Linked DNA regions of Homo sapiens: region 2 is linked to region 1. The links come from fine-mapping of genetic effects on gene expression. A gene starts in region 1. The other region holds a variant in brackets. All regions are shown on one strand. Distances are between the middles of the regions. Region 1 holds the start of SPP1 (secreted phosphoprotein 1). Region 2 has its middle 18 kb from the start of MEPE.

Region 1 (8,476 bases):
AAATACTGATAATATGCTACTGCAAAGGAGTGGAAATTGCTCTGAGTAAGTATCATCTGATCTGCTGAATCATCCAGGGCCAATCATTACATTTCCCTGTCACTGAGAATGAGAACTCTGGGGGTTGCACAGAGTTCCTTCTGCAGCCACCTAAGGGGTGGATGAGTAGAGAGAGAACCAGTCAGAAGTACTTGGAGTTTCTCTCATGGCTGGCTCTAACCAGAGGAGCTTAGTATTGGGCTTCTCCGAAAGGTTTTGCTGAAAGAAGGGGTTCCTTGCTTTAAGAAGATGAAAAAACAGCCGGGCGCAGTGGCTCACGCCTGTAATCCCAGCACTTTGGGAGGCCAAGGAGGGTGGATCACGAGGTCAGGAGATGGAGACCATCCTGGCTAACACGGTGAAACCCCGTCTCTACTAAAAATACAAAAAATTATCCGGGCGTGGTGGCGGGCGCCTGTAGTCCCAGCTACTCAGGAGAATGGGGTGAACCTGGGAGGCGGAGCTTGCAGTGAGCCGAGATCACACCACTGCACTCCAGCCTGGGCGACGGAGCGAGACTCCGTCTCAAAAAAAAAAAAAAAAAAAAAAAAAGAAGGCGGAAAAACAGTGAGACCAGATGAGTTCAGAGTTTTTCTCTTCACTTTTTCATATCTATCTATCTATTCTCATGACACATGTAATACAGGCTCAGAGAGAATGGATGTATAAGTTACATTTATAATTTTTAAAAACTAATATGAAGAAAATAAAGGTAAGCAAAATGAATAGACTAAAAACCACCCAGTAATCCTAACACTCACAGATAACCAGTGTGTATTTTCAGGCATATATCCTTAGAGACTTCCCCAATTTTTTACTAGCTTTAAGTTTCTGGGATTCTAGAAGGCTGAGCCTTGAGCTCTTCACGTATTTCTTAAATTGTTATAGCTCCACGTGCCTTCTAAAATGCATCTTTGCCATATTTTCGTTTATTAAAAAGACGCTAATTCTTGCCTCAAATAGTATGACCTCTATCTTCTCTGGAGATGTTAATTTTTCTGGTTTATTATTAGGATTCAACACCTGTATTTTCAAATCAGTTGAAAAACAGACACACACACCCCTCCACACACAAACGAACACAGAATACTTCTTTTAATGTCTTCATTAAGCAGTCTAATTGCAGTGACCCCCAAGGCAGCTCTATTTTGGCCTTTATTCTGTTCAACTGGAATTGAACTCTGTGTGCCTTTTTGTCCAAGCTTCTGGGGACAATGCCCATTTGTTGTTTGGCTGGCACAGTTTCATCTGTTGTGGAGGGGTAGGTACATCTTTAGTGCTGGTCAAATAATTATAATAAAGAGTTTGGTTGGTCTTATGTTTGGTTAGAAAATGTGATCTAACATCAGCTGACAATCACAATAGATACAAACAGCACACATAGACTTTCTTTTCACAATGGGCTTCTCAGCTAATATCTCAGACAATATTGTGAATATTATGGTCATACAAACAGTTCTGACTAATATCCAATGTGAATTTTAAACTTAGCAATCCACTAAACAAAGCAAAAGCTGGAATTTTCTGCTTTTAGATCAGTATGTGGACTAATGGAAAAAAAGTCACACAACTTCATATAACTTATCTTACATGCGATAACTCATCATACATGCCTAGATATTATTATATTTAAAATATCTGGGTTGGTTTTATAAACTTATATTTATTAAAAACTATACTGTGCTTGGTACTGGCCTAGATTCATAGCAGGCAGTCAATCAATACTTGTAAACCAATGGATTTGACTGAGAAGATAAGTAATATCGCAGCAAATACGTTTCTTGCACCTCTCGCCATAATTGAGTAAATGATTTAACTATATAAAAACATAAAAGATGCTTACCTGCTTTTCCTCAGAACTTCCAGAATCAGCCTGTTTAACCTTAGAAACAGAAAAGATGAAGAAAGATTACAAGAATGTCCTCCTAGCACATGGAAGCACACAATTCAGTTATTTTCAGGAATTTTCTTTAAGATGCAACTGTACTCACTGGTATGGCACAGGTGATGCCTAGGAGGCAAAAGCAAATCACTGCAATTCTCATGGTAGTGAGTTTTCCTGCAAAATATTTCATAAGGAATAGCTGACATCTTCATAGGTTACAACAGTGATACCTTTTTATACTACCACATTACAAAATGATCACAAATAAAATATATTTTCTATAGAATCTTTTCTACTTCTTAGAGATGCCTTTTCTTTTTAGTATTATAGTCTTTCAAGTTAATATTTATATTGCCACCTATTATCCATCTTTCACTATTAGGCAAGGGAAAGGGAAATTTTGCAAGTCTGTATTTATTCAACTTTAAAATTTAGAGTTCCAGAAATTATACCATTACTACCTTATATATCTAGCTCTCTAAACCTACAAACAGATCAACAGTAACTTAATTATATTAATAAGCTAGTATGGGAATATTTTTTAGAGAAGAAAAAACTCACAGAAAAAAATGAAAAAAATTTGCTTTATCCATTTTTCCAACATGTACTTTAAATGTGACTTTTAGCTTAATTATCAAGTAGGTGCTACTTAGGTGAAATCAAACTATCTCTGAAATTTGTTATTTAAGTAAGATGTTCTAAAAATTTGAAATTCAAAGGAAAACATTGAAAATAGCCAACAGCTTTTCTATTTGTAATAATAAGCCTACACAGTGTCATACAGGTATCTTGGTGAATATTTTAACAGCTAAATTTAGCAGTGGCATATTCAGAAAGGGTTTTCTTCCCCTTAAAAGTGAGATACATCATTTAAAAAATAGCATTGTAATTGGTTTAATTAGCATAAAAGATCCCTTTTCTTTTAAATTCCTGCACAGTCACCCACTGAAAATTATATAGGTATAATTATTCCAAAGGGGAATTTAATTTTACTATTTTCTGATTAGCATCGGTGGTTTCCGTTCTTTTGAGGACCCAGTGGAAGTATTTTTAAGTTTTAAATTTGATTGGCATTCAAAATATCTAGACACCTTTGTTCCAGGAGACCTGCAATGTATCTAATCTGCTTATTAAAAAGGCTAGAAAATTTAAGTCTGTTTAACAGCATTACAATTAAAAATATTTTTCCTTAGAATTTGGACTTCCCCATGAAATTCAGCTGAATGCACAACCCAGTAGCAAACTGAAGCTGTACCTTGGTCGGCGTTTGGCTGAGAAGGCTGCAACTGGCCTGAGACGAGTCTGGTCCCGACGATGCTGTGCTCTGCCTCCTCCTGCTGCTGCTGACAACCAAGCCCTCCCAGAATTTAAATGCTGCTGCAGACATCCTCCACCAACACAGGGAGGCGGAGAGATTGTGTCATGAGGTTTTCTGCCACTGCCCAGCCCACCTGCTCCCACACTTCCCCCTCTGGTTTTGTGGTTAAAACAAAAAAAAACAAAAACGCACACACACAATCTACAGTTAAAACATTACTTATGTACAATATCATTAACTAGCTTTTTCATTTACGGGATGGGCATTCAGCATCCAGGAAGAGCACTTAGGGATCCCATGAAAAAGGGAGAAAGTAGGGAAAAACATTAATGTAAAATTAAATAGAATGGATTTTTGTTTCTTTCGGTTTAAGTAACATAAAGGTAATATCTGCAACCACTCTTGCCTGTATGATTGTACTTATTGAAGAGCCAGAAGGCTATTGTTCAAGCCTGCAAGGAGTTCAGAAAACTTGCCTCTGTCCTTTACTACTCAAGCTTAGCTTTGTGATTTCGAGTATGCAGTAGCTTGTTACTTAGACAAATGGCACTAGTGACATTAAAATATAAAATTCTATATGAAATAGAAGAATGGTAATTTATTCTAGATGTTGCAGAAGTAAAGCAGTTTCTGACTGAGAGCAGGATGACTGCTTGAGAGGGCTGCTTCAGGAGCCAGACCGTGGTTCTGAATTCCGCTGTGTCACTGCTGACCTGTGCAACCTTGGGCAAATCGCCCAGCCTACCTATCCTTGTTCCCTCATCCATGAAATGCAATACTATTACCTAGGTCATGGGGTTTTTGAGGGGTTTAAATGAATTAGTATGTTAAACTAGCAATGCTTAGCACATATTAGATGCAAATGCTCTGCGTATCTTAAGGACTATATGTGTGTTAACTATTATGAAATTTTTAAGAGGGGCAGGCAGTCACGAATTGTAATGTCCTTTAAAAGAACAGGTTATTAAAATGAGAGTAGACGTAAGATCTTTAAATTGTATGCATCAATAAGGAAATTTTGCACATTTCTAAAGGAACAGATTCGATTTTGGAATCATCTTTTTTTCTAGTTTTTCTCCCAAGGTATGTAAAGTAGGCCACTTAAAAAGAAAAACATTTTTAAAAATTTCTGTATTAAAAAACACTTTACTAGGTATTTAAAAGGTGTCTGAATGAAAGAAAATTACAGGGAAAGTCCGAATATTAGAGCAGAATTCAGGGATAGCAGAGCTCTGGGTCCTTTTAAAATATTTAATATTGCCTTGAGATTACTTATCTTCATTTGCTTTCTCAGTTGTGAAATGCAGATTGCACTATTTATTTACCTTACACCTTTATTGTTAAGACTTGTGTGTAATTGAGATGAAAAATAAATGGTCCTATTTATTATTAGGTTGCTGCAAAAGTAATTGTGGTTTTTATTAGTCCTAAAGTGTCAGCTTCCTTTTGCCAAATATTACTTTTAATATAAATATAGATTAAATAATGTCTTGCAGTGATAGTGTATAGCTAATTCATAGGTTTCATGAACATTTGGTAGGGGGAAATATGTCTCCCTTAAATTGGATGTATTCCAGATGAATTGATATGATTGGTTTGTAGGTAATAAGCACCCATTTTAATAAGTAAGATGACGACTATCTCTATAAAATAGAAAGCACACAGATTATAAAGTTGCAAAATAGACTTCTTTTTTCTGCTTCTAAAAACTATTTTTTTCCTTTAAACATACCCGCATAAGCGTGTCATGTTGTCAATTTAGTGGAGGGAAGTCTGAAAATTCTAAAAACAACAAAATTTCCACAGGATTTACTGTAGTTTACTCTGTGCCCACGGGAATGATTCAATATGAAGCTAGAATTAATTATAGGAATAGATTATGCTGGAGCCCAGCCATCTTGAGATGAACCATACGACCCTTTACAGGACTCTTCTGGTCATAGCTCCGCAGTGCCACACGATGGCAGCATTTCTGAAAAAAGATTTCAGACCACAATCTGGTTCTACCAATTTTCTTAATTCCAGCGGGATAGAACACTCCTGTATTTAATGACAGGACTATATACAGCTGTGGAGCTCTCCATTTCTTGGAATGCCAGGTGAGGAAATATTTCCCAACAATGACCCGCTATGCAATCAGGGACAGAGACCCAGAGAACCAAAGCGTTCTTGTTTTGCTCTGTTGTTGCCTTAGGCAATCCCAAGTTGACACTATTGTCTCCTTCCCGACTTCTACACTCATTCAAAAAGTTCCTAGTCCCAAGGCCTCTCTCAGAGAAAAGGCTTGTGAATTCACGGGTAAAGAATGTGTCTGGGATGCTTTGGAGTTGAGAAGATAAAGTGATTTATAATGGGAGGCAATTCTGTAAAGTAGGAAATGGATGCTGCGTCATTCTGACTATCGGGGAGGTCATGTTTTGGGATGTTTCTTGCTGTTTGCACTCAAACATGCTGCTGCTGGTTGTTTTTTCTGAGTAGGATTTTCTGTCAGAATTAACATGTTAAATGATTTAAATCACAGTGGCTCTATCTGTAATATTTCCAAAGTTTCCATTCTTGATTGGCTAATGATTGGTTGTTAGAATCAAAAGGTCAAAATGCACAAATTCCCTATAAATCTTGTGAGTGGAAAGTAAAAAAAGTTTAGTTGTCAAACTAGAATGCAAAGAGTAATTTGTGATCTTAAATTATACACACTAAGAGGACACATGGAAACAAATAAAGAGCCTTAAGGTCTTTTTCCTGAATTACATGAAAATTCCCATATAATAAAAAGTAAGTGTTCAATGTCACTACTTTGGTGGACAACTTTATTAAACTCACTTCCAGTTTATTTGAACATTTCTAATTATATTTTACTTAGTAAAGTGTAACCAACTATTTCAGTGTTTTCAGCTCCACAGGTAATTATTTTTTTCCCTTGAGTCAAGGTTCAGACATGACTCTGATATTTTGGTAACACCACTAATCTGTCATAAAGAAGTTTGGAATTAAAGCTAATCGGAAGCCTAGCACCATTCATCATATATAGACTGGGAAAAGGGGCATTATTTATCACAGGGTAGCAAGCAAAGGTGGATGATAAGAGGGTGCTATTTTCAAGTTCAGACATGAAATTAGAGCATTTCAGAAATACAAAAAAAAAAAAACAAAAACACCATAAACTCTTTTATTCCATTGCTCAATAGCTTAGACAACAAAAGTCAGCTCCTGACAAAGTGGTCGTACCATTGGTAAACATTAGTTTCAATTTAAAACAAATAAAAAAAAGTTTTCCTTTAGACACATAGAACTGTTATGGAGTAAGTGCTCAATAAATTGTTGGTGATTGCCCACTCAGCCCTGCATCTATGACACGAATTCTGACCTTATAGTTTTTGCTTATGAATACAATGCATAGGCACTATGCTTGAATTCAGAGTATATCTCATATATTGATATCTAATATCTGCCTGTACTCAAGAATCTAGCATTTATTTCTTCATTAAAGTAGTATTAGTAACTCTGAGGACATTCTAATGCTCTTTAAATGATAGACTTTTTTAAGGTAGACTTAAATTACTAACTTTTTTTTCTTAAATGACACCATTCTTACCCTCATGGAGCCCATTTGTTCATGAAAATCAACTAGGAAATTTGAAACTTGAGTAACCAATGAGATTAAGGGGGTGTGGCTAAACAGTAAACTTGGCAGCACCCTGGGTAGAGAAGGTATATGGTAGAGACCCTGTGTCCACATTGGAGTTGAAGGGATGGGTATTCTGGGATTGGATCCAAACAGAAAGTCCCCCTTCCCACTCAACATCAACCACAGCAGCATAAACTCGAGACCTATAACAACCTGGGGAACAATAGAGGAGGCTGTAATCAGAGAGGATCCAAAGAGGGAGATAGAACAAGGTGGAAAAGCACAAATAGAAAGTCTAGCAGCTGCAGGAGGACCTTGTTTGTTCAGAAAAAGACATTTTGTGGCAATAAGCGGTCAGTGACAGTCATTTTGCAGATATATTTGAGGGGAGAAAATCATTCTCCGAAATTGGTTTATGAGAATTCTTGCTTAAAATCTGATGTTTGAGTAATTTTTGGTAGAGAATCTATCATAAGGTTGATATGAAAAGGTGACAATTTCAGTGCAAAAGAGAAAACAAAATCAAAAGAAAGGGGAGTAAAACTAGACAACAAAAGCAGCTCAGTCAGATATTTTTCTGGTTACACTTGGCTAAGGTTTTTTGTTTCGACAATTCTTGTCAAGGCATAGTTTACATTAATGCCCCTATCCCATAGCATAACATTTATGTTTCTTAAACCTGTAATTTAAAATATTCTATATTAAAATTTGATTTCTTCTTTAATGTTTGAATTCCTCATAGAGTGTAAGTTCCATGATATGCTAATCCCTCTGCAGATTATGTGCCAAAAATATTTATTCAGTGAAGAAATTTAGCTCAATTATGACATGTATATAGTTCTTACATAAATTGAGTTATTCTTGCTGATTATTTTCTGTTGCCTTCATAAAGCCCCAGATTAAACATATTTATTTATTTTTGAGACAGTGTCTCACTCTGTCACCCAGGCTGAAGTGCAGTGGCACGATCTCGGCTCACTGCAACCTCTGCCTCCTGGGTTCAAGCGATTCTTGTGCCTCAGCCTTCCAAGTAGCTGGGATTACAGGCATGCACCACCATGCCCAGCTAATTTTTTTTTTTTTTTTTTTTTAGTAGAGATGAAATTTTATCATGTTGGCCAGGGTGGTCTCAAACTCCTGGCCTTGAGTGATTGGCCCACCTCAGCCTCCCAAAGTGCTGGGATTACAGGCATCAACCACCGCTCCCGGCCTCCTGAATTAAACGTCTTCAGATTCCAATATAGATAGTGTTCCGCTTGAGTGAATTACACCTGAGAACTTCAGGCATGCTTCCTGTGCCTAAAAAGGACTGCCCAGGTGATTGCTATTTCTTACATAACATGAGGTCCTCTGGGGTCTGGCATTCTTCTGTCTCTCCAGCCTTATTTCTGCCCAACTTCTCTCCTTGTACTCCCTAAAACAATCATGCAGAGCCATGTGGGTTCCCCAGTGTGTCATTCTATTTCAGGTCTCCATGCCTTTACTCACATTGCATGGTCCTTATATCTAGAATATCCCTCCAGTCTCATCCGCACCTGTCTCTGAAATATTTGCACATCATGCATCAAAGCATCCCCTATAAAACCTTTTCTGGTCTAAATAGAAA
Region 2 (8,476 bases), 120 kb after region 1:
TGCTGGACTGCCCCTTTCCTGTTCCTTTGGCTAGAGTGTGCAGGCTTTTTTTGTCTGTATTTGGTGTTTCTGGGCTGCCAGCATCTGGAGCTCCAAGTCTGGGATATATGAGACCAAAAAAAGCCCAGGAAGCTTAATGCCTTGTCATTCCTTGAGTCTTAAGGTCCCTGGCCCATCTTTTTAATTCTCTCCACCTTTCAGAGTTTTCTTGGGTCTGTTCTACATGTGTCCAGGGATTACAGTTGTAATTTGGTTGTAATCTATTTCACCTTTCCAAGGTGAAAAAAAAACCTTTAGTTTTTTTTTAAGTCTACATTATCACAGTTTTCTGTACTGTCACTATTCTGATTTCATTTTTTTCTTTTTCTTTTGTTTTTTGAAACAGAGCCTTGCTCTGTCATCCAGGCTGGAGTACAGTGGCGCGATCTCGGCTCACTGCAACTTCTGCCTCCTAGTTTCAAGCGATTCTCCTGCCTCAGCCTCCTAAGTAGCTGGGACCGCAGGAGCATGCCACCACGCCCGGCTAATTTTTGTATTTTTTGTAGACAATGGGTTTCACCATGTTGCTCAGGATGGTCTCAAACTTCTGGACTCAAATGATCTGCCCATCTTGGCCTCCCAAAGTGCTGGGATTACAGTGTGAGTCACCGTGCCCAGCCTGATTGCATTTTTGATCTTATTGCTGGTCTTGTAGGTTTAGGAAATGCTGTAGAGCTCAGCATATTGATATTAGCAAAGCATTTGACAAAATTCTTTTGTGAGCATATCTAGGCCAGTTAATAATAGAGCCATAGTCATTATTAACCAAACAGCTGCACCCAAAAAGTATTGATTAATAGATCAGCATCGGCCGGGCGCGGTGGCTCACGCCTGTAATCCCAGCACTTTGGGAGGCCGAGGCGGGTGGATCATGAGGTCAGGAGATCGAGACCATCCTGGCTAACAAGGTGAAACCCCGTCTCTACTAAAAATACAAAAAATTAGCCGGGCGCGGTGGCGGGCGCCTGTAGTCCCAGCTACTCGGGAGGCTGAGGCAGGAGAATGGCGTGAACCCGGGAAGCGGAGCTTGCAGTGAGCCGAGATTGCGCCACTGCAGTCCGCAGTCCGGCCTGGGCGACAGAGCGAGACTCCGTCTCAAAAAAAAAAAAAAAAATAGATCAGCATCAGGCTACAAGGGGGCCAACTTCAATATGCTGCAGGCACTGTCCTAGCCTGCCCTCTGCCCTGTTCAAAATTTCTTCAAACTGGTGAATGAACACCCAGGAAGTATTTGCATCTTAAGAACTGGGAGTGATAGTTAATATTTAGGATCACAAAATCGAGATTGAAGAAACTTCAATAAAATAGCATTGTGAAATAGAGCATTATGCATCCTGGATCAGAAAATAAATGATATAATACTGTACAAAGAGCAGAGCTGGTCTAATATTGTTTTTTATGGAGTAAGCACATGAGCAAACAAAAACCAGAAGGAAGTTAGTACTTATATAATTAGAAATTAAATAAGGAGAAAGGGAAACTAATATGAATTTAGCCTGTATTTTGGACCAAGTGCTGACATAGGCATTTTGTAGATGTTAAGGAGTCTAACACAATCCTAGACTATATTAACAGGATTGAGTGGCCAGAATAAAGGGTAGACTATTACATGGTCTGCTGAGATGTTCAAACAATATGTGGAATATTGTGCCCAACCAACTGGAGGTAAGTGTGGTGAAAGAGCACATGAAAGGTCATTGAAAAATGTTTAGTTTGATGAGGAGAAGTGTAGAAAACAGGAAACATGTAATGTGGAAAATGAATGCATCTTTCTGCCTAGCACCAAAAGTGTAAGGTAAGGTAATGAACTCCCTGTTAGTGTAAGTATGTAAACAGTGGCAAAATGACCAGCTATTAGGGGTGAAACACAGTGAACCTGCCTTAGGTGAGCACTGGACCAGATGATCTCTAAGGTTTCTTCCAAGAATCTCTGCACCTGTATAGAGCCAGTTAGAAAAAGAATGGCAACGTGTTAATGTCAGGGGGTTTAGCCTCACAAAACTAAGCACAGCTGATCTTGGCTTTAAGGAGATTCAGACATTAGTAAGAAAGAAAAGAGACTTTTTAAGACAAATTCCACTTTATTATCTAAGGAAACAGGAAATTCAGAGTTTTATAGGAGAGATGTATGCAAACAAAAACTAGATTAAGTTTCCAGAGGGGGCTGTTATTATTCAAACAAAAGAGCCCTTGTTTTTATTTATGGAGTTTAAAAGTAATAGGATACGGGCATTATGAAAGAGAGGCACCTGATTGTATGTTTTTTTTTTTTTTTTTTTAAACTTCCTTTAGGGAGACATTTCCAAATTTAATTGTGAATGAAAGTTAAAAACTCTCTTTGCTTTGTTTCAAAATGCTTTTCAAAAAGTGAGCGAGGTTGCCATCTAGTGACTATTTTCTGGTTTTCCATTTTAAAAGCTCTTTAATACGGGTTCTTATGGCAGTGTTGCTGAAACCTGGCTGTGTATTAGTGTCACCTGGAAGTTTCCTAAAATGCAGAATACTAGGACCCACCAAAGAATCGGAATCTTTGAGAATGAGCTCCAGGGTTGTGCTTTCTGATAAAGATCTTCAGATGACTCCACTGGACCTAGCCTGTCACCAGTGTTTGGAATTAACTGCCCTGGGGCATATTGTGTGCAGGTGGAAGTGTCACAGAGGCAAATTTATGTAAAGTGCAATATTCACTTACTTGCTCTAAGAACCTACTTGCTCAGGTATATGAAACTTGATGTTGCATCTTTGTATCTCATATTTAAAATAGACTTGGTAATGCTAAAAATTTACCCTACTGTTGTACACAAAGATACATGACCAGTGATGTTTATTGTAACACTGTTTGAATAGTGATTAGCTAAAAATCATTTAAATGCCTATCAATAGGGATGTGGCTAAAAAAATGACAGTAAATCAAAGCAGCAAATTTTATGCAGCCATTTAAAAAGAATGGTTAAGCATCATATACAATTTTTATTTGTCAATCATACCTCAGTAAAGCTGAAAAAACACAAGAGTTTATAATAGAGACAAACTGGGAAAATGCTAAATATTCTTCAATAGTAGACTGAACAAACTGTGGTAAATGTATATAATAAAATTTAAAAATGATTTAAAAATATTTGGTAATGTGATAAAAGAGCAAATTAAGATAGCAGAAAAGAACACTAAAAGAATATAATGTTTTCTTAGAATATATGTCAGTATATAGTTAGAAAAAGAACTGGGAGGAAAAATGTGATGAAAGTGTAATTTTTTTTTATATTTTCTTTTTTTGTAATTTTATATAATGGGTTTTTCATTTCTCTCATAATCAGAAAACTAAAAACATTATTTTGAGAGAGAAAGATATGTGAATTGATTCAAAGCTTACTGTCACATGCTTTTAGTAAGTGTTAGATGAACAGGCCAGAGTAAGCTGAAATGAGGAAGCCAAAAGACCAGGTTGGAGACTCGTTTCTCTTGGCTACCGGTAGGCTCAGATGCTGGGGGGCTTTCACACTTGTACGTCCCTTCTTTATTCATCTGGCCCTGATGAATAACATGATGGTGCAACTGAGGGGCTCTTCCCTGGAAGGGCCTTTCATCAACCCGGATCTCTGTGGAAGACAGAGCACCAACACTGAACCAAGACAGAGGCAGATTTTGTAGAACACTAGAAATTTATGGATCACTGCTTTAAAATTCTACTAACTAAAGATTCTATTAATAGGGAATGCTCTTCTAGAACTCACACTTTTTTTTTTTTTTATTATACTTTAAGTTTTAGGGTACATGTGCACATTGTGCAGGTTAGTTACATATGTATACATGTGCCATGCTGGTGCGCTGCACCCACTAACTCGTCATCTAGCATTAGGTATATCTCCCAATGCTATCCCTCTCCCCTCCCCCCACCCCACCACAGTCCCCAGAGTGTGATGTTCCCCTTCCTGTGTCCATGTGATCTCATTGTAGAACTCACACTTTTGCGCAACATAAGGCAGCAAGCTTAGTCTCGAATCAGCATACTGTGACTTTTGCGCCCTTGTACTTTCAACTTTTGCTCCTTCTGTTCCTACTTTGTTTCCTTGTCACACTTTCTGTTCTGTCTTTTACAGAGACACATAAACTTTGAATGGTTGTGATCATATCCTGTTAGGATGACCGGTTTGTACGTGACCGATGGCACACTACGGCTCTACAATCACCAGATTATTTTCCACAGAGTAGTGAGTTGGGGAA[G/A]TCACGTATATGCACTGTGAATAGTTTCTGTTTTGCAAGAGCCTGTGTAAAGGTCCATTTTTAAATGCTGTCCTGTACATTCACTTGATTAATTAATTAATATTTATTTATTTATTTGAGACAAAGTCTCACTCTGTCACCCAGGCTGGAGTGCAGTGGCACGATCTTGGCTCACTGCAGCCTCCACCTCCCAGGTTCAAGCAATTCTTGTGCCTCAGCCTCCTAAGTAGCTGGCATTATAGGCCTGTGCCACTAGGCCTGACTAATTTTTGTATTTTTCATAGGGATGGGGTTTCACTGTGTTGCCTAGGCTTGTCTCGAACTTCTGACCTCAGGTGATCTGCCCCACCTTGGCCTCCTAAAGTGCTGGGATTACAGGCTTGTGCCACCAGTCCCAGCCTTGTACGTTCACTTTAAATGATATTTTTATTATTTGTTGATATAAGATAATCCACAAAGACAAGCTATTTTTCATCATAAACTGAAACATTCCTGCAATGGTAGGTTAATACAGGGGAAGTTCTGGACTAGCTATAGATTTGTGGGAGACCCAGGTGACTGATTTGAAGGTCACTGGGAAAGACATCCATATTAGTGATTTCAAACTTTGACTTGCATTAAAATCATTTGAGGGACCTGTTAAAAAAGGAAATCCCTGGACCCCGTTCATGGCCTTATATCACAAATATTACTCCATTCACTTATTAATGCAATGTGTCTAAGATCTGCCCCAGCTGGCCTGCTCAGAATTACCTCTTTGCTAAATAGACAACTTTCTTTCTTCACATAGTATTATGTTGGTGCAAAAGTGATGACTGTTTTTGCCATTAAAAGTAATGGCAATTACTTTTGAGCCAACCTAATACTTCTATCTTCCTGATGCTGTTTTAAGTAAAAATTATTTAAGATTGTTTGACTTCTATTATTAATCTGTTAACCTAACAATTATAAAAATCTACTTAAAATTCAAATCTAGCAAGAGTCACTTCTAAACAGGGAGTGTCTGTGTTACACTAAACCATATGCCTACAAATTGATAAAGTATTATTCGTTTAATGAAACAGATCCTCTTGTTCTTATTCTCGAAAGTCTAAACCATAGCTTCAGGTAGATTTTCTTGCAGCTTTTGCGTGAGTCCACTCATTGTTTTTGACATTATTCTCATTTGGATTTCTGGATTTGGATTGTATCGGTGTTTTGTTCTCTTTTCTTTCCAGACTTCCTCATTAAATTTTTTCTAACCATTTATCTGCCCCTTTCTCTTTCAGCCCCCAATTCCTATCTTCCTGACATGCATTCAGACTCATCTATTTCTTCTCCTTTTCCTTTGGGCCGTCTAATACCATATTTTAATGCCTGTGACTGTAAGTATCATTCTCTTGAATAGCAGAGTTTACCTTCTCATACAGAAGTTGTTTTTGAAAGGGACTTCTGTAAAAGCATCATAATGTCTTTGAAACTTACGCTGTCTTGAGCTCCTGCTTAGTTAAAGGCAGGCCCTAAAGACAGAGTGAGGAGATAACACAATGTTTATTCTAGACCGCAGAGAAAGTCTGTTGAGCAACTTCCTCCTGGCTGGTCTTCTTCCTTCCAACTCCCCTGAACCCTACCTTGCTTACCACTCCTTCCCCATCCACTGGTTGGGGAGAGCTATCTTAAGCTCTAAACTACACATGGGATCACTTAAGGTCGCCACTGTGAAGCTCTTATGTACTAGTGAGGCTTATTGTCTGCAGCCTCTCTACATGTGTAATACGTTGGGTAAAATAGATTTTACTATCTCCTGGCTCTTCCCTTCAGCTAGAGTTCATCTTCTCAGAACTCCTGTCTCACTTTACTTATATTTCTATTATTTAACACATTCTGCCTTGTATCTTTCGTATGACTTTCTCCCTACTTACTTATAGTTTTGATAAAGACCAAGAGCATCTCTTCTTTTGATCTCCAAAGAATTTTGTAAAAGATGGTCGTTCAATAAATACTTTTCAACTGAGCTAAATGTTATTTCAGACAAGGTCAGATATGTTACCCTGACTGGTAGACGCGCCAAGAACAGATTAATTAGTATTGTAAAATCAAGGTAAATATTTACAAGCAGAGAAGTCCAGGAAGGTGAGGTTTGAGGGAGTACCAGGGCTGCACGTAAATAACAGAACCGGAGCCTGCTCGCAGACTGGTACAGTGACCTTTTCTTTTTGAGCACAAGGTGGCAGGCTAGGTCAATTTCCATCGTCTCTTATAAGGCAGCTACGTGAGGCTGAAGTTTTTTGCCCAATTTCAGAAACAGATATCTATTTTTTTTTTAACTGAGATTAGCGCAGCCTGATGGCTAAAACATGGTTTTGGATAAGGCATGGGCCTCACTCTTGACTACTGACTGTCCTTGTGGATCTCTGGTCCTTTGTGTTTGGACTAATTCCTCCACGTCTGCATCAAATAGCAATGCATTGTGGATGCCAACACACTTCTAGTTTCTGTTAACTGGATGAAAAAAATATGAACATTGTCAGTGTTTTGAAGAAATATCCATGAACACTGAAGCTTAGAGAGAGGAAACAAAATCGGACCAGAGAATTGAAATACGCAGTTTCTCCACTAGATAGCAGACTACGACAGGTGACTTTTGGAAGGGTCCATCTGTATTTACCCAAAGAAAGCATCCGTTTTTCTCCATCAGTTCATATTTTTCTTTTACCACGACAAGTGTTTTTATGTGATCAGACCATTCGCATGTAAAGCTCTGATATAAACCTGAAATATAAGTAGCAGTTTGATTTCAATTTATTAATCTGCAATTTAAATTCTGATAGAGTTTTTTTTTTACTTCATTAATTGCCTCCAGTTTTTTTTCCCCCAAATTGTCTTTTATTTTTTAAAAAGCAAATTACTAGGAATAGTTTATTCTGGAATTCTGATGGTAACATTGGGTGATATGTTCAGTCTTTCCCTTGATTCTGACCTGTTATTTCCAGAAGATAGGGAACAAATGAGGGAAAAAAAGATTCCTTGTTTTTAGATTCTACTTTGTATTCTTTCAAGTTTCTCTCTCTCTCTCTGTGTGTGTGCACTCATGAACACACATATACTCACACATATTCATATTATGTGGATGAATATACACACGATCTATGTACACGTGTGTATACATATATGTCTATATATACACACAGTCATATATGTATGTGTATATTATGTACATTTATCTTTGCAATATATGGCAGTTTAGTGATTGTTTAAGAGTAAAGACTCTGGAACCAGACTCCTTGGGTATAAATCCTAGCTAACTAGCAAATACTTACAGATCTGTGTCTGTTTCTTCATCTGTAAAATGGGGGTAATAATGGTACCCGTATTATAGAGTAGCTGTATAGATAAAAGGACTTCACAGAGCATGGCTCATGGTAACTAAGCAAATCATGTTAGCCATTACTATTTGTGTATGTTGAGAGTCTGATTTATTCAATAGCTTATATTGCCACTTTCATTTAGTAAATGAAGCACCCTCTATCTACCCAATGTGGGAGTTTAGATTTTTTGAAGGTGCCATAACATATTGACATTGACTTGACTTTGCTACATACATTATTCAACTTAATAATCTAGGTGCTGTCCGGAATGTCTCAGTCATGATTTCTGTTGTTTGGGAACTTACGTGTTAAAGAGAAAATGTGTGCACTTTTCTTTCTCTATTCTCTACCTCTTTCTTTTCTTCTCTTGACCTTCCTCATTTGGAGGAATGTCAAGAATGGAGAGGTATATCAATTACAAATTCAATTCACCTACCAATAACAGCAGCAACAAAAATTCCAAATAGTCGCTTAAAAAGAGCATTCTTTTTCTCATAGGACAAAGATTCTGGAGGCAGGAAGCTGATGATGGAGCTGGTTCAGTGGCTCCTCTAGGATTATTTTGTCCTTTCCTTCATAGCCACAACATGACTGCTCCTCCAGGCATCAGGTTCATGTCAAGCCAAGAAAAGGGCAAGAAAGGAGAAAGGGTGGTATACCGGCTATATAAATTCTTCTTATCAGGAGGGGCAAAAACTTTCCAGAGCTCTTCCCCCTTCCCTAACCGAGACTTAGGGCTAGTTTCCAGAACAGTGTCACAAAGCCAAAAAACCTCTACACTGAAAGACAAGAGAAAGAAATATTCTGGAAATGACTTGGGATCAGCCAGTGAATGATATTTCTCAAATTAAGTTTTTGTCTTGGCTTTG

The links. PIP is the estimated chance that this variant, and not a neighbour inherited with it, causes the effect.
Region 2: its variant is fine-mapped to the expression of SPP1 in whole blood (TOPMed, PIP above 0.99).

What each region holds. Positions count from the first base shown.
Region 1 is chr4:87,970,504-87,978,979 of GRCh38, reverse strand. SPP1 (secreted phosphoprotein 1) reads right to left here and starts at 3,266. Exons shown (of 7, transcript NM_001040058.2): 1 at 3,180-3,266; 2 at 2,031-2,098; 3 at 1,883-1,921. The coding sequence starts at 2,084. LOC124900730 (a long non-coding RNA gene) reads left to right here and starts at 5,211. Exons shown (of 2, transcript XR_007058172.1): 1 at 5,211-5,341. RefSeq lists cis regulatory regions at 3,271-3,280, 3,315-3,324, 3,499-3,514, 3,952-3,960, 4,027-4,035 and 1 more, enhancers at 3,293-3,363, 3,126-3,625, 3,988-4,008 and promoters at 3,180-3,393, 3,183-4,270, 3,270-5,512.
Region 2 is chr4:87,847,173-87,855,648 of GRCh38, reverse strand. No RefSeq gene overlaps it. Among named protein-coding and RNA genes, the nearest start is that of MEPE, 18 kb to the right of the region's middle. The variant G/A (reference allele first, on the strand shown) is at 4,261.